Homo sapiens: one gene and its partners. Changing the gene in region 3 together with the main gene of any one other region gives a genetic interaction. Each region holds a gene or a part of one and is shown on either strand. Other genes may lie near its edges.

What was found.
Region 1: changes in AXL (region 3) and CSF3R together harm fitness more than expected from each alone (negative genetic interaction), as found in Homo sapiens cells (one large-scale study listed by BioGRID).
Region 2: changes in AXL (region 3) and EDA together harm fitness less than expected from each alone (positive genetic interaction), as found in Homo sapiens cells (one large-scale study listed by BioGRID).

Annotation. Positions count from the first base shown.
Region 1 is NC_000001.11:36,476,414-36,479,913, forward strand, and holds part of CSF3R (granulocyte colony-stimulating factor receptor isoform a precursor), read right to left. Parts: intron 3,104-3,500; 5' UTR 3,084-3,103; coding exon 3,020-3,083; intron 1-3,019. UniProt on the Homo sapiens protein: Receptor for granulocyte colony-stimulating factor (CSF3), essential for granulocytic maturation. Plays a crucial role in the proliferation, differentiation and survival of cells along the neutrophilic lineage.
Region 2 is NC_000023.11:70,035,613-70,039,112, reverse strand, and holds part of EDA (ectodysplasin-A), read right to left. Parts: 3' UTR 1-3,500. UniProt on the Homo sapiens protein: Cytokine which is involved in epithelial-mesenchymal signaling during morphogenesis of ectodermal organs. Functions as a ligand activating the DEATH-domain containing receptors EDAR and EDA2R. May also play a role in cell adhesion.
Region 3 is NC_000019.10:41,239,723-41,243,222, reverse strand, and holds part of AXL (tyrosine-protein kinase receptor UFO isoform 1 precursor), read right to left. Parts: intron 341-3,500; coding exon 208-340; intron 1-207. UniProt on the Homo sapiens protein: Receptor tyrosine kinase that transduces signals from the extracellular matrix into the cytoplasm by binding growth factor GAS6 and which is thus regulating many physiological processes including cell survival, cell proliferation, migration and differentiation.

The DNA of each region.
Region 1 (3,500 bases), on a different chromosome or scaffold from region 3:
CATTTAGAGCAGTGTCTGGCATGTGAGTATTTGCTGCCATCATTAGGATAAACACTCAAATCCTTCAATAGCTCCTGTGGCCTGGCCCCTGCCTGACCCTCTCAGTTCCAGCTTATACCGGTCTCTCAGCTCCAGCTATTCTGGCTCATTCTTGCTATTCTTTGAAAACTCCAAAATCTTTCTAATCTCTGGATCTTTGTCCCTGCTGTTTTTTTTTTTTTGTTGTTGTTGTTTTGTTTTGGTTTTCTTTTTCTTTTCTTTTTTTTCTTCAAGTTCTTGCTCTGTCACTCAGGCTGGAGTGCAGTGGCACGATCACGGCTCAGTGCACCCTTGACCTCCTAGGCTCAAGTGATCTTCCCACCTCAGCCTCCTGAGTAGCTGGGACTACAGGTTCATGCCAGCACACCTTGCTAATTTTTTGATTTTTTTTTTTTTTGGTAGAGATGGGGTTTCACTATGTTGCCTAGGCTAATCTTGAGCTCCTGGGCTCAAGCAATCCTCCTGCTTCAGCCTCCCAAAGTGCTGGGACTACAGATGTGAACCACTGTGCCCGGCATGCTGTTCTTTTTGGAGGGACTCTTCTTTCTCTCTCCCACCCCTGTTTCACCTGGTTAACGCTTAGGCATCTTGAAGAAACCAGACCAGGCACTAACGAACTGGAGGAGGCCAAGGTCCCTGTACTTCCTCAAAGCTCTTATTATCCTTCATAATTATAGAGTCTTATGATTATTTACTTATCTATCACTCCAGCTAGACTATAAATTCTGTGAGGCCAGCAGACCTTGGCTGTTTGCTTATTACTGTATTCCCAGTGCCTAGTACAGAGTAGGACCTTGGTGAATATTTATTATTATTATTATTTTGAGAAGGAGTTTCGCTCTGTCACCCAGGCTGGAGTGCTGTGGCACAATCTCGGCTCACTGCAACCTCCGCCTCCCAGGTTCAAGCGATTCTCCTGCCTCAGCCTCCCGAAAAGCTGGGGCTACAGGCACGCACCACCATGCCCGGCTAATTTTTTTTTGTATTTTTAGTAGAGATGGGTTTTCACCATGCTGGCAGGCTGGTCTCGATCTCCTGACCTCGTGATCCACCCGCCTCAGCCTCCCAAAGTGCTAGGATGACAGGCATGAGCCACTGCGCCCGGCCGATGAATTTTTTTTGATAAATAAATAAACAAACAAATCAACATACACTTTGCCCGCAATGCTTTCTGTCCTCTCTCAGGTGTTCTTAGGCCCGTTTTACTGATGGGGATGCGAAGGCCCTAAGAGGAGAAGCAGTTTGCCCAGGGTCACAGAGCAAGTTCATGATTCTCAACAAAGGGCTTCTACTGCTTCACAGGCTCAGGATTTCTTTTTTTTTTTTGAGACGGAGTCACTCTGCTGCCCAGGCTGGAGTGCAGTGGCGTGATCTCGGCTTACTGCAAGCGCCGCCTGCTGGGCTCACGCCATTGTCCTGCCTCAGCCTCCCGAGTAGCTAGGACTACAGGCACCCGGCACCATGCCCGGCTAATTTTTTGTATTTTTAGTAGATACAGGGTTTCACTGTGTTCACCAGGATGGTCTCGATCTCCTGACCTTGTGATCCACCCGCCTAGGCCTCCCAAAGTGCTGGGATTACAGGCGTGAGCCACCGCGCCCGGCCCAGACTCAGGATTTCAGGCTGGAAGAAACTTTACAAGGTTGTTTGCTTCAAAACTCTACCTGATGCTCTGCCCTCTACAGCAGGGCTTGAGTGGCCTATTTTTGTATAGCCTAACAACTAAAGATGTTTCTTACATTTTAAAAGAGTTAAAAACAAGCAAAGCAAAAACCAAATAAAAACATGCCACAGGGCTGGGCGCGGTGGTTCATGCCTGTAATCCCAGCACTTTGGGAGGCCGAGGTGAGTGGATCACCTGACGTCAGGAGTTTGAGACCAGCCTGGCCAACATGGTGAAACCCCATCTCTAGTAAAAATACAAAAATTTGCAGGGCCTGGTGGCAGGTGCCTGTAATCCCAGCTATTCGGGAGGCTGAGGCAGGAGAATCGCTTGAACCCGGCAGGCGGAGGTTGCAGTGAGCTGAGATCCCGCTACTGTACTTCAGCCTGGGCAAGAGAGTGAGACTCCATCTCAAAAAACAAAAAAACAAAAACCAAAAAACATGCAATAGGCAGGGCGTGGCGGGTCATGCTTGTAATCCCCATACTTTGGGAGGTCAGGGCAGGTGGATTGCTGGAACCCAGGAGTTTGAGACCAGCCTGGGCAACATGGCAAAACTACATCTCTACAAAAAAATACAACAACAAAAAAAAATTAGCTGGGTGTGGTGGCATGCCCTGCACTACCTTGGAGGCTGAGGCGGGAGGATCACTTGAGCCCAGGAGGTTGAGGCTGCAGTGAGCTGCGATTGTGCCACTGCACTCCAGCCTGGGCAACAGAGGGAGACCCTGTCTCACAAACGAACAAACAAACAAACAAACAAACAAACAAGGAACAGAGACAGTATGTGGCCTGCAAAGCCTAAACATTACTGTCAGAAAAAGTTTGCCAACCCCTGCTGCACAGCATCTTTATCAATCCTGGCTTTAGCTTGCATACCCCTGGGGATGGGAAGTTCTCTACCTCTCAAGACAGAGTTTCCATGGTTGGAAACCAAGCTCTGCCTGGGCTTCTTTATTTCAGGATGAAACCTGTCCCCTTGTAGCTTCCATCCTGATCCCTTTGCTGCCCACCAAGGCTGCATAGGACCCATGGGTTGCTTCTGACAGCTTGGTAGAGATTTGCGGACAAGATCTGCGCCTCACTGGCCTTTTCCAGGATGACCAGCCCGGGTCGTCTCACCATTCCTCTTGGGTGGTGGTTTGCCTGTGGAAGTCTGTGGGTGGGAGACCAGCTACCCCACATCTGTGGCTCAGACTTGAATCTTGTGGGATTCTCTGGGAATCCCAGGAGCCATGTGGCAGTGCAAGGAAATTCCCAATATCTCTCCTTGTAGCTTCCCCTCCCCACTGCACCCTCATCCTTGGCCATACTCACTTCCGGGGAGCAGCAGGATGATCAGGGCAGCCCAAGTCAGGCTGCAGTTTCCCAGCCTTGCCATAGCACCAACTTGATGTTCACCTGTAGGCAGAAGGGTTGTTTAAGACCATGGGCTTTGGAGTCAGAGCTGATCTTAATCCTTGTCTGTCACTGTGCAGCTTTGACTAGGTTGCTTGACTTCTCTGAGCCTTCGTTTCTTTGCAAAATGGAAGTAACAGCAGCCTATACTGCATGGGACTTTGAGAGGAAGACACAAAATGATGCAAGTCAAGGGCTTTTCACAGTGCCTGGAACATAGGAAATGACAGTGACAGCCACAGTTATTATACTTGCCTTCCAGGAAAGAGCAGGGAAAGGAGCAGTGAGGAAGAGCATTCTTCCGCCTTCCCAGCTATCTAAGCTAGGCTACCCCTAGAGAGCAGAACCTGAGATGAGGAATTGCATGCTGGTAGTTTATTTTGAGAAGATCCTAGCAGCA
Region 2 (3,500 bases), on a different chromosome or scaffold from region 3:
TGGGCCAGTCTTGTGCTTTCCAGTCCAGAGGCTAGAGCTGGGAGAATGCCTTGGGAGGAGGAAGAGTTCTGATGAAGGCTGCAGCTACTCTCTCCCTGCCTGGCCAGGCTCCTGAAGGGGGCCAAGTACTTCCAGCCTGGAGTTTGTGGGTGGAAGAAAGAAGATGGCCATGTGGGACAGGAACTGCTTTACCCCCTCACTCTGCTGAGTCTGGAGGTTGGTGCTTGCTCACCACTTGGGGCAGGTCATCTTCCCTCTCTGGGCCTCAGTTTCTACATAAGTAACAGGGTGGAATGTAGGTTGGGCTAGATTCCCTCTAAGGGCCTTTTTAGCTCTAAATTTCTCTGAATCTATTTGCATCCACAGGAAGTTACATAAACACATACACTCATACATGGATCAAAGTCTTTGTTTACCTCCAGGGTTCCTAGCTCTTTCCTGTTCAGCAAAAGAAATTTGGCTCAGGATGGATGAAGGGGGAAATAGGCAAATACTACTTCTCCAGGTAACCAGTAGCCGAGCAGCCTCCGCCAGCTGTCTTTTGTGCCAGCTTGGCTGTTGAAGCCCAAGTAACTGGCAGAGACTCCTGCCATGCCATTCTCCTTCAAACCTCTGTCATCTGCTTGCCCACAAATGTCCTCGTCCCATTCTCCATGCAAGCATTGGTCCTCTGGCAAATTCACACCAACATAATTCCAAACTGCACATCTATTTCCACATTCTCTCATCAGTAAATTGCTTTGTCACTTTGCCAATGACTTAGCAGCAATAGGGCTCCCCAGCTACCTATTGCTTCCCTCATCATCCCTCGCCCTCTAGAGTTCCTTTGGAGGGTTCAGAATGAATCAAGGGTCCAGTGGAGATCCTATTTCCTTTATCATCCCCTCCATGTCTGGAGAATAGAATGGTATCAGGATGCTCTTTAGGGGCACAATTAGGAAGACTTTTCCTCCTCTCTCCTCACACCTTTCTGGCCTCAGAACCAGTCCTCTCTTTCAGGTCTTCCCTCCATCCCTGAGAGACCCTGGTAGTATCAAAGTCTCTAAGGTATGGTGGAAAGAGATAAGGAGTCACACTAGTAGTTGTGGGAAGCAGGCTGGCTCCTGTAAGCTGTCTGTAGGGTAATGAAAGGAGGACTTTGCCCACAGTAGGGGCTCTACACATGATGGTTGGCTGGTTCCTAGGATGGGTGAAAGAACATAAAGGCCACAAGTTCTGTGGGTCCCAGAGGCCTGCTGCTCCAACATTGTGCCAGGAAGATTCTTCTGAACACAAGAGCTCTAAGGCTGTTCGCTGTTTTCCAAAGAAATGTCTGACTCTTTTTGCCACAGAGCCCCTGGCAGCCGAGAGGACGGGTATTACCATCGAGGAATGAAATCAGGCATCTCTGGGTTTCTCCCCGGAACTCTCAAGGATTTCAGTTCCCAATTACCACTTTTATTGGTTCTCTCTAGACCTCAAATTCCACACAATGCTGTGGTGTAATGGAACAGCTTTGGAGTCAGACCTGGCTGAAGCTCCAGGTCTGCGGCTTAAACTGGTCAAAACACTCTGAGAGTGCTACCTCTCTGAGCCTCATCTAAACAATGATGTTTGTCATATTATCAGCCTTGCCTTCTTCAAAGGAGATAATACAAGAGAAATTATTTTCCAAACATGAAGGAGTGGTTCTTGTTGGTTTCTGCTACAACTGCGGACTGTCCGAGGCACTTTATAGGAGTTAGGGCCAGACACATGCCTGGAGTTCACCTCACCTTGGGTTGCAAGGCTGTCATTAGCAACCAGACAACGGAGGCCTAGCCCATCACGTCTCACCCTGACCCTTGAAGGGCCAAGCAGTGTGGTTGCTTAGAAAGGGAAGGCACAGCTGAGAAATAAGTACCCGCTGTTCTTGGTGAATTTCAGCTGCCTGAAGGAAATTATTCCCCATCTCCTGAAAAGGAAACACATTTCAGGAACAAGAGGAGCAGACTGTACAAGGCTGGCCTTCCCAGGTTTGGGCTGGATCTAGCACCCAGAAACCAGGCTGAGCCCAGGCACTTTGAAGTAAGGCTCTCGAGGGTCCTACCATATGATCTGTTGGGAAGCTTGGGGTTTAGGGGAAGGTGAATTTGGACCTGAACTAGGGGGCAGATCCCTGCTCAGTGCCTAGACACTGGCTTCTCCTGAGCCTGGCTTTAGGGGAGCAGCATGAGCACCTGCGGTGACAATGCTCTGCTGTGGCTTTTTGAAGCCAGAGTGAAGAAAGACTGGGTTAGTACAGCATCAGCTGCTGGCCTTTCAGATAAGGCCTGGCCTAACGTCCACTTGGGTTGCAGCAAACTTGAACAAAATCCCTCTGTCCTATCCTCACCCCTTGCCCTTTCTAGGCCAGGTAAAAAGGCTCTGCCTTGCTAATGCCCAGGAGCAGTCTAGGATTTGGGAATTTAGAAGGCTGTGGTGAGGGCTAAGAGTCACAGGTACTAGAAATTGAAGGGACTTCTGGAGGTCATCCCGTCCAACCCTTCGTCCCCAGACAGAATTTGATTAGGAATGGATGAAAAACATTTGTACTGCTTAATAAATGGAAAATTCTGTTTGTGCCCAGGTAAGCTAAAGAATATCCCAGACTCACATGACCACAGGTCCCAGGTTAGGCACCTGTCTCAGACAGAGGTAGGCTCCATGGAGAAAGAAGACAGGAGTTCTAGTCAGGCTGGGAATGGGGGCAACTAGAAGGTGACCCCAGGGAATTTTCTGAGTGTGGAGCACAGCTGTAAATAAAATGAGAGTCATGTGACCCAAGTACGGATTCAGGGTCTTAGGCGGGCAGGTTTGTGGCCATTCCCTGTGATTGTTCCAAAGCACAGCAAACTTCCCAAAGCCCAGCAAGCTGCCACGGTGTGGCTGTCAGCTGGAGTGGGAAGAGCACTCCAACCCTCCTGCAGGCCACAGTATAGAGCAGAAAGAACATTCCCACTGCCAAGGATGCTCCTTGGCAGGTTTCTCTTATGGTCTCTGCCAAAAGCACCTGCCTTTTCCCTCTCTGGCCTTCTTCTTAGGCTGCAATGCTCCCTTCCCACTCCACCCCAGCCACTACCCTACCCAAGAGAGGAGCAGCAGCCCCCTTGGGGTCAGATGTCCACCCCCAGAGTCTGGAGTGCACCTTTGCTTTCTCTGGCCTGCTGCCCTGGATCCTCATTTTAGTGCAACAAACAATAGATCTGACAACAGGGACCTCGGGGTTGAAGAGTCATGCCATAAGTCAGTCAACATGGAACCAAAGAAGGTTCTGCTTCATGTAAACCCTGGGGCTCCATCAACTGTCCTGTTAACTCAAGGTCATTCTGGAAAGTCAAGCAGGCCTTGTCACCCTGGAGTCACTGGGGAATAAATAACACTGGGGCATTTCTCTGCGGCTGCAACACCAATACACCTCACTCCACAGCAGCACTTAGAGGTTCTGGGAGTCCTGGCTCCCAAACCCAGGGAAGGGGCACGGACAGAGGCAAAATGGGGGG
Region 3 (3,500 bases):
GGTCTCAAACTCCTGACCTCAAGTGATCCACCTGCTTCAGCCTCCCAAAGTGCTGGGATTACAGGCGTGAGCCACCACGCCTGGCTTCCCTTGCCCTCATTCTGATTCTTAGTCATCACTCCTCCTGCACCAGCCTCCTCACTGGCCTCCCTGCCTCCAGCCTCTCCATCCCAGGCCACACAGCCTCCCCATGTGGTTCCAACTCACCCATAACGGGTCTCCTTCTTTCGCCGGTGGACAAGGAAGAGAGCCAAGATGAGGACACAGGCAGCGGCCACGACTGCTCCTAGCAGTACATACCACCAGGGCCACGAGAAGGCAGGAGTTGAAGGTTCCTTCACTATCAGGGGGTATGAGGAACAGGTCATGGATGAAGCCTTGGATCCAGCTCTCTGGGACCCAAAGGGGTGATGTGGGAGGGAGGCAGAAGGCCTCGGCAAAGATGTGCACATACTTGATGAGGTGTGTGATGGATGCATTCACATATCTGAATGGGCTGGGCTGGACAGGGCATGCAATGGATGTGATACAAGTGCAGGTTAAAGCAGAAGTGTGTGAAAGTTGTAGGATGGGTGAGTTAAGAGTGGGATGGAGGCCAGGTGTGGTGGCTCATGCCTGTTATCCCAGCACTTTGGGAGGCCAAGGCGGGTGGGTTACTTGAGGCAAGGAGTTCAAGACCAGCCCGGCCGACATGATGAAACCCTGTCTCTACTTAAACAAAATATATACAAAAATTAGCTGGGGTGGTGGTGCACACCTGCAATCCCAGCTACTCGGGAGCTGAGGCAGGAGAATTGCTTGAACCTGGGAGGTGGAGGTTTCAGTGAGCCGAGACTGGGCCACTGCACTCCATCCTGGGTGACAGAGCAAGACTCCATCTCAAAAAAAAAAAAAAAAAAAAAAAAAAGAGAGTGCCAGGATAGTTCAGGTGGTAGAGCATCAGACTTTTAACCTGAGGGTTCAGGGTTCAAGTCTCTGTTTGGGCGTTTGCAGTTTTCCTTACTTTAAGCTACCAAATATTATGCCACCAAGATCCAAAAAAACAGAAGAGTGGAATGGATATTTGAGGAGTGTGCAGTGAGTGTGGAATGGGAGGGAGAGATGTGTGGAACGCGTTATGAGTGTGCCAAGAGGGCTAGATGAACATGAGATGGGTGTGGAGAAATCTCAAGCAGCATAGGTTAGTGTGAGAAATGTGATGATTGTGCAAGAAGGGTGGACTAGAGTGTAGATAAGCAGGTGAGTGGGGAAGAAGATCCTTGCAGTGTAGGATGGTGCATGAAGCGTGTGCAAGGAGGGCGGACTAAGGAACATCTTTTGAAGAGAATGCAATGACTACAAAAGGGTTTTCTTTGTCTCTTTTTTTGTTTGTTTGTTTTTTGAGACAGGGTCTCACTCTTTCACCCAGGCTGGAGTGCAGTGGCCCGGTCTCAGCTCATTGCAACCTCTGCCTCCCAGTTTCAAGCAAATCTCCTGCCTCAGCTTCTAAGTAGCTGGGATTACAGGTGTGCACCACCATGCCCAGCTAATTTTTGTATTCTTTTTTTGGTAGAGACAGGGTTTCACCATGTCTCCTGAGTAGCTGGGACTGCAGGTCTGTGCCACCTGGCTAATTTTTTTTTCTTTTCTTTTTCTTTTCTTTCTTTTTTTCTTTCTTTCTTTCTTTTTTTTTTTTTTTTGAGACAGAGTCTTGCTGTGTTGCCCAGGCTGGAGTATAGTGGCATGATCTTGGCTCACTGTAACCTCCGCCTCCCAGGTTCAAGCAATTCTTGTGCCTCAGCCTCCCGAGCAGCTGGGATTACAGGCTCGCACCACCAGGCCCAGCTAATTTTTGTATTTTTAGTAGAGATGGGTTTTCGCCAATGTTGGCCAGGCTGGTCTTGAACTCCTGACCTCAGGTGATCCACCTGTCTCAGGCCTCCCAAAGTACTGGGATTACAGGCGTGAGCCATTGCACCCGGCCACAATGGTTTCCATAAAGCCAGGAATGAGGGTGAAATAAATATCCAAAGGGGCATGGTAAGCATATACAGGGTTGGATGGCTGCTGGAAAAGTTGGGGGTGTGTGAAGTGGGAAGAGTATTCGTGAAGTCTTAGATACAAGGAGTGAGCAAGGAATTTTAAGGATGTAATTGCAGTGTGAGAGAAGTGTGCAGTGAGCATGCAAAAGATGTTAGAAGGGCAGATGAGAAGTATGGGGTGCACAGAAAGGGGGTGTAAAAAGGGCAGGGGTGGAATGGAGTGTGTAAGAAATAAAGATCATTATGTGCTGAGTATGCAAGGGGTTCAGGGTGAGTGTGCAGAGTGAGATGGGTTGGGATTAGTGAAGGGTGAGGGAATGATGTCTATGGAGTGTGCAGTAAGCATGCAAGGAGAATCGGGTGTGGGAAAGTTGTGGACAATGTTTTTCAGTGTTTGCAATGTGGAAGGTATGGTAAGTGCATACAAGGTGTGCAGAGTTTGTGAATGAGAAGTGTGTTGTGCAATGGGCCTTTGGGGTCATGTGGGAGGAACGGATTATAATGGGATATATGTGAAAGGAGGGTGGAATAAGCGTGGAAAGCGTATGTGAAGAAATGTAGGAAGGGATGTGAGGAGTATTGAAGGCTAGTGGGTTGAGTTACAAGAGTGAACCATAATAGTGCCCAGAGGGGACAATGGGTGTAGGAGGAATGTTTGAGAATTGTTAGAGAAATATTTGAGAGGGATGGATGTGAGGAGGATACCTCATTCATCCATCCATCCACCTTTCTACCCATCCATTCATCCACTCACAAATCCATCCATCTGTCCATCCATCCATTTATCCAACCATCCATTCATCCATCCATCCATCCATCCATCCACCCATCTACCCATCCATATATCCACTCACCACCCAGTCATCTTTTGTTCATCCACCTATCCACCCATCTATTAATCCATTGACCCACCCACCCATCCACCCTCCATATATCCAACCATCCATCCATCCACCCTCCATATATCCACCCACCCATCCATCCACCCATCCATCTACCCATCCATTTATCCACTCACCATCCAGTCATTTATCTGTTCACCCACCTATCCACCCTCTATTCATCCATTGGCCCACACACCCATCCATTCTCCATATATCCACCCATCCATCCATCCACCCATCCATCTACCCATCCATTTATCCACTCGACATCCAGTCATTTATCTGTTCACCCGCCTATCCATCCTCTATTCATCCATTGACCCACCCACCCATCCACCCTCCATATATCTATCCATCCATCCATCCATCTATTTGTTCATCCATCCACCCACTCATCTGTCATTGCCTGAATACCTACAATGTGCTATGCTAGGCCATTATAGGCACCTCCATCAAGGACCACACAAACTCAAGAAGTAGGTTAGAGTGATGAGTTAGAGAAACATGAAAGGGATGTGCAATGAGTATGCATGGTGACAGTGCCCCCACTAGGTGTTGAGGGTAGGGAAGGAGGAGATGGGGTGTGGAAGCCCTT